2 linked regions of the Homo sapiens genome follow. The protein of the gene in region 2 interacts with the protein of the main gene of each other region in a biochemical or structural test. Each region holds a gene or a part of one and is shown on either strand. Other genes may lie near its edges.

Region 1 (3,500 bases), on a different chromosome or scaffold from region 2:
CACCACGCCCGGCATAAACTATTTTTCTCCTGTAGCTTTTGATGGACTCCCAGATTTTAATTTGTATTTGTATATTTTCTAACCAGGAGATCCTTGAAATAAGGACATAAATTAAAATTTCAGCCCTTTAACAAATAAGAGGCATTTGCTTACAATGAGTTGAAACGGCAGCAGTGCTGTAAGTAAAACTATTATGTAGGGTTTTCTGTATTGCAGAACAAGGTTGTTTTTCTAATACACTAGTATTGAAAATCTGTGAAACTTAACATTTTTGGCAAGTGTTAATACTTACATGGCTTAGATGGTACTAATTCATATGGGTTATTTCAATGCTTCTCAAACTTTAAAATACGTATTAACTCTCTAGACTCTTACTAAAAAGCAAGTTCTGATTAGTTTCTTTTATTATTATTTTTTAATTATTGTGGAAAGCTTCACGAATTTGTGTGTCATTCTTTTTTGTTGTTTTTTGAGATGGAGTCTTGTTCTGTTGCCCAGGCTGGAGTGCAGTGCCGGGATCTCGGCTCACTGCAACCTCTGCCTCCCGAGTTCAAGCAATTCTTGTGCCTCAGCCTCCCAAGTAGCTGTGATTACAGGCATGTGCCACCACGCCCAGCTAATTTTTTTTTTTTTTTTTTTGAGATGGGGTCTCGCTATATCGGAGTGCAGTGGCGTGATCTCTGCTCACTGCAACCTCCGCCTCCCGGGTTCAAGCAATTCTCTGCCTCAGCCTCCCGAGTAGCTGGGATTACAGGCACCTGCCACCACACCTGGCTAATTTTTGTATTTCTAGTAGAGACGGGGTTTCACCATCTTGGCCAGGCTGGTCTTGAACTCCTGACCTCATGATCCACCCTCCTCGGCCTCCCAAAGTGCTGGGATTACAGGCATGAGCCACCGCGCCCAGCCAAATTTTTGTATTTTTAGTAGAGATGAGGTCTCACCATGTTGGCCAGGCTGGTCTCCAAAACTCCTGACCTCAAGTGATCTGCCTGCGTTAGCCTCCCAAAGTGCTGAGGGTACAGGCGTGAGCCACTGCACCCCACCTGCATGTCATCCTTGCACAGGGCCATGCTAGTCTTCTCTGTATCACTACAATTTTTAGTATATGTGCTGCTGAAGTGAGCACAACAAGCTCTGGTTACTTTTAAACAAGATCTCCAGTGATGTCAAAACTGCTGGTGTGTGGCCTACACTTAGCGGCATAGGAGTATACTATCTGACTTTTAAACCCATCTTTTTAAAAATGATTTTGTTGTTGTTTTATTTTGTTTTTGAGACAGGTTCTTGCTCTGTCACCCAGGCTGGAGTACAGTGGCGTGATCACAGGTCACCGCAGCCTCGACCTCCTGGGCTCAAGCAGTCCTGCCTCAGCCTCTCAGTATCTGGGACTATAGGCACACACCACTACAAATGGCTAATTTTTTTTATTTTTAGTGGAGTCGAGGTCTCACTATGTTGCCCAGGCTGATATTGAACTCTTGTAAACCTATCTTAAGTAGAGTCTGCATTTTTTCATCAGATTTTTTTTTTATATATCTTTATGTAAGGTTAAATTAGTGATAGTTTTGTTATACAATAGAGTCCATTGTAGAATTGCATTTAATCCAAAGTGTATATTGTATTAATAAACAGTTTTTGAGCTGATAGATTTTTGAGTCACTCAGAATGATTGTTTGCTTATAAACCAGTCAAATGACACCTTACACTATAACTAGTGATATAACTATACCTTACTTAGCAAAGATTTTGAACATTTTTTTCCTGTCATTTACTGCATTTATTTAAAGTATTCTAGGTTAGATAGCTGCCTTTTCTTGACTTCAGGAGAGATGCTTGAATCTTCTCTTTCATTCCCTCAGGGAATACTTGTGTTCTTTCCATCAGTTCATTTCTGGAAGAGTTACGGATCTTATCCAGCTGAGGATATACTTTTCCATATTTGCATCTTAACGCTTTGAAAGTTTCTTGCTAAGGTAGCTTGCTCTGTAAGAAACAAACTGTTCATCTGCTTGGGCTGCCATGACAAAATATTACAGCCCTAGTAGCTTAAACGACAGATGTCTGTTGTCTCGCAGCACTGGAGGCCGCCGGCAGGAAACCTGAGGTCAGGGAGTCAGCGGGGCTGGTTCCTTCTGAGGCCTGGAGGAAGACTGCTCCAGGCCTGCCTTCTACTGCTGGGGGTGCCGGCAGTCTTTGGCTTCCATACCTTGTCATACCTCACCCTGGTCTCCGCCTTTGTCTTCACGTGGCCTTTTCCCCCTGTGTGTGTCTGTGTGCAAATTTCCCTTTTTATAGAGATGCAGTCATATGGGATTAGGGCTCCACCCTGCTCCAGTATGGCCTTATCTGAAGTAATTACGTCTACAGCAACCTTGTTTCCAAATACGGTCACATTCTGAGGTCCTGCAGTTCAGTGTTAACATGTGAATTTTGGGGATACACAACTGAACCATAACACAAACTGTGAATTCTTAGCACCTTAAGAATAAGTTGTAGAAGAGAACAGAGCCACTCCTCCAGCCATTGCTCCAATGGCTCTGGTTAAGTTGTAGCTCAGTAGAGAGCATGAATGCTCTCAAAAAAGCACTACAGTTGTCCTCGGTATCCACAGGGGGTTGCTTCCTGGATCCCCTCAGACACCAAAATGCACAGACATTCAAGTCCCTGGTAAAAAATGGTGTAGCATTTATGTATAACATATGCACATCCTCCCGTGTACTTTACATCATCTCTACATTACTTGTAATACCTAATAAAGTGTAGATGCTATGGAGATAGTTGATATACTGTATTGTTTTTAATATTTATGTTATTTTTTATTGTTTGGGTTTTTTTCCCCCGAATATTTTTGGTCCATGGATGTGGAACCCGCAGATGCCAGGGCCACCTGTAACTTGGGGGAGTGACTTGGTGGTGGTGGGTAGCGTTGCAGACGCCATCTTGCTGGACTTTGTCCTGTGGCAGTAAGCTCTCTGATGTGACCCTGTTTGTTCCTTTAGGAGACGTTGATCCAGCAGCACGTGTCATTTCATTAGGTCCTGTATCTGATGTTGTGGTTAGTGGAGTCCTCCAGCAATTGAATGAGAGCAGTGGACACATCTCAGCAGGTCGGTCTAGAGAGTTGCGAATCTAAACCTGGGACAGGCTGGGGCCAGGAGGCAGAAACACCAGCCTCTGCCAACACCGGAACAAGCCGACGCTTCCAGACAAGGCGGAAAAGGCCTTTTGTAATGGAAATCTCGCGAGGGTTAATCTTCTCTTGAGAATGGCAGTCAAGAAATGAGATGGTTCACTTGACTACTGAGCAGTTACACCAAGGAGAGCGTGAAGGAGATGATTGAGCCAGAGAAGAAACGGGTTGTGATGGTAATGGTGTGGGGGAAATGAACTTGAGCTTTAAACTTGATTTGAGTTTCAGTGTCTCTGAATTGAACATCCCACGTTGGAAGAAGATACATTTGGGGGCTCCAGGACTACAGTAGAAAAGTATAGAGCAA
Region 2 (3,500 bases):
TTCTCAGAGTTATTAATATGCCGTTGTGCCTTGTGAATTTCCAGGAGGAGATTATGATATGTTGTGTTTCCCAAATTTATTTTACCTTGGAATTGTTTAAGGAACACCTAGTTTTTTCCCAGAACTTTAGTGTTCTGAGAGACACAGTTTATTATTCAAGAATTTTCCATATAATGTAAACCTTCTGTAATACTAATTTTGGTTCATAGATTATTAAAGAGAAAAAACAAAGTATGAAAGGAAACTATTAATTATTAACTATTATTTTCCCCAAAATCACTAAAGCCTTTTAAATGTTAATAAAGAACACATCTCATTCTCTTTAATGACAAGTGTCATTTATTGAGAGTATTTTCTCACAGTTTTGCAAGTTTTTCAGCAATGACCCTAAATTTTATTTCTTGGAAACCACACCCAAATCCTGGGTGCTCAATTGAAATAAAACAATACCCTAGTCAATATAACATGCTTGTTAGCATCTTTATTATTTAATATAGTGGGTCAGGAAAACATTCTTGTTATCTAGGTGTGATTTTTAAATTGGGGAGAATAAAGAATTACCATCTAATCTAAGTATTTTTTCTTTCTCTCCATATTTAGTTCTTAAACACTTCCAGTAACCATGAAAACTCAGACTTGGAAATGCCTTCTTTAACTTCCACCCCCCTCATTGGTCACAAATTGACTGTTACAACACCATTTCATAGAGACCAGACTGTGAAAACTCAAAAGGAAAATACTGTGTAAGTCTTTGGTTCAGGAATAAAATGATTTATCTTATTTACTTATATTTAATTAATGGAATATAGTTCCCAGATGTCTGATCCACTTGTATGTGCATAATTTTACTGACCATTTATATATAATCATGTCTATTCCCACATTGAATATATCTGTCCTGGGCATATTACAACTACCTACAGGTAGAAGATGGGAAGATAAACTAGATTCCTTTTGTAACTTACTCCAAAATTTCCTATATATGCACAAGTAGTTTTCATAAAACTTTTCCATTCGGTTTGTTTGTTCCCTCCATAAGGCCTTCTTATGAAAGCCAGATTTTCAACCTCCTTTCCTCTCTAATTGTAAGCTTCAGAATAAGAACGAGTATGGTTTCTTACCTAGTTTGTATTTTTATTTAATTTTATTTGTTTATTATTTATTTATTTTTAGTTTGTATTTTTTAATCTTATTTTTTCTTTTTGAATTTATGTGTAGATAGGACCTCTTCTGACATCCCCAGGAATATTATATGATTAGAAGCCAAGGGATGAGTAAGCAGTCATTTTTATTCAATAAAGCCTTAATCAATTCAGAGAAATGGTAGAGAAAGTGTGAATTATCAGAAACCTTGAAAAGAAATGCACTGTTATTTCGAAGTACAAAAAGTAAATTTTAAAAGTTTAACATGTTTTGTAGTATGGGCTCTGTTTTCATGAATAGGGAAACCTGATTTGTAAATGACATCAGGTCTTCTTGATGCTCATAGTCTTATACAGATCATAGGCACTACATGTGTCTTCAGAGCCATTAAGGAAAGATGTTAAATCATTTAATGCTTTTAGTCTTCGAGGTATAATATTTTGAAATATTTGAAAATATGTGATATGCATATTCTCTTTTTCTTAACGAATAACGTGATTAATCAGCACACCCCAATTCCATATCCGGAACAGAGTTTATTGTATTCAGTGGAAAAATGTTAAATGTAACAGGTAAAGCCATGTAGGGACATTTATTCTTTTGTATTGAGCCACTGCTTGTTTTCTTTTTAAAGTTTTAGAACCCCAGCTATCAAAAGGTCAATCTTAGAAAGCTCTCCAAGAACTCCTACACCATTCAAACATGCACTTGCAGCTCAAGAAATTAAATACGGTCCCCTGAAGATGCTAGTAAGTTCTAGAAAAGTTTTTGGATTTCATTGGTTTATTAGTCCCATTAGGAGTTCTCTCTGATGCAAAAATACCCACTCTTCCGTTTAGCCTCAGACACCCTCTCATCTAGTAGAAGATCTGCAGGATGTGATCAAACAGGAATCTGATGAATCTGGAATTGTTGCTGAGTTTCAAGAAAATGGACCACCCTTACTGAAGAAAATCAAACAAGAGGTAAACACGCAACCCTTTGGAAGCAACAAGCTGAGAATCCTGCCCCCTTTATTCCTTGTGTGCAGCTTGATGTGTCTGCCATTGGCACTGTGCAACACCACGACTTTTCGTGCAAGATTTTCATACAAGGTGCAGCGAAAAGGTACTGCCAGACTGTAGGCATCATCAACCTTTCCTTTGGGAAGCCAAGCCATCTCTATCTACTTCATGTTTGGACAGAAAACATACTAGAGAGTATCAAGAAAAGGGAGGGAAAGAGGTTTTTAATGTACTTTTAAACATTACTGATTATATAAAGTTGATATTTCATTTTTAGATGTGAAGAATTGGAATTTAAATTAAAATAATAGTATCTTTAATTAATTGTATTAAAAAAAGGGAGGCTGGGCGCGGTGGCTCATACCTGTAATCCCAGCACTTTGGGAGGCTGAGGTGGGCAGATCACAAGGTCAGGAGTTCGAGATCATCCTGGCTAACATGGTGAAACCCCGTATCCACTAAAAATACAAAAAAATTAGCTGGGTTTGGTGGCGGGCGCCTGTAGTCCCAGCTACTCAGGAGTCTGAAGCAGGATTATGGTGTGAACCCGGGAGGCAGATCTTGCAGTGAGCCAAGATCGTACCACTGCACTCCAGCCTGGGAGACAGCAAGACTCCGTCTCAAAAAAAATAAAAATTAAAATTAAAAAAGAGAATCTAACCTGCAAGGATCAAAGTTTTAGCTTGTTGGCAACAGCTGTTTTCCACCAGGTTAGATACAGTGCTTCTTGAATTTATTTTCATGTAAAGATAAGTATTTTTTTTTATAGCTAAAAATCTGATTTGATTATTTAGTAATGGAGAATTTTACCAGAATGTGATTAAAAACCAGTCTTTTGTCACCAAAAGATCTTTTATGTCACCAAAATAAAATCCTTGACGGATACAACACTACTAGGTGTATCATTAAAATATATTCTTAATAGAATAAACACCTAGAATCAGAACATTGGTTGAAAACGTAGGAGCTTTACAGGGGCAGTAAATTTGGAGCTAGTCACATTTCAAATTTGCCATCAGTGTTTCTTTGTTGAATCCAGAAGATAGAGCAAATTGAGCTGATAGTGTAAGTTAGCAACATAGTTTTATAAAAGTATTTGAGGGACTGGCCAGAAATATACTCCTGACTGTACATGTTTCATAGGAAGTTCTAGAAACAACAAAGCACTTTCTATATGCTTTTAGGTGGAATCTCCAACTGATAAATCAGGAAACTTCTTCTGCTCACACCACTGGGAAGGGGACAGTCTGAATACCCAACTGTTCACGCAGACCTCGCCTGTGGCAGATGCACCGGTAAGTACGTGTGCACCAGCCCCCAAGTTGTTATGTGACACTGGTGCCTCATGAAATC

The links.
Region 1: the proteins of MYB (region 2) and UPF2 form a complex in vitro, tested with the Homo sapiens proteins (one large-scale study listed by BioGRID).

The regions. Positions count from the first base shown.
Region 1 is NC_000010.11:11,920,810-11,924,309, reverse strand, and holds part of UPF2 (regulator of nonsense transcripts 2), read left to right. Parts: intron 1-3,002; coding exon 3,003-3,012; 3' UTR 3,013-3,500. UniProt on the Homo sapiens protein: Involved in nonsense-mediated decay (NMD) of mRNAs containing premature stop codons by associating with the nuclear exon junction complex (EJC).
Region 2 is NC_000006.12:135,198,308-135,201,807, forward strand, and holds part of MYB (transcriptional activator Myb), read left to right. Parts: intron 1-600; coding exon 601-743; intron 744-1,218; exon of another isoform or gene 1,219-1,274; intron 1,275-1,777; coding exon 1,778-1,892; intron 1,893-1,982; coding exon 1,983-2,108; exon of another isoform or gene 2,109-2,250; intron 2,251-3,331; coding exon 3,332-3,442; intron 3,443-3,500. UniProt on the Homo sapiens protein: Transcriptional activator; DNA-binding protein that specifically recognize the sequence 5'-YAAC[GT]G-3'. Plays an important role in the control of proliferation and differentiation of hematopoietic progenitor cells.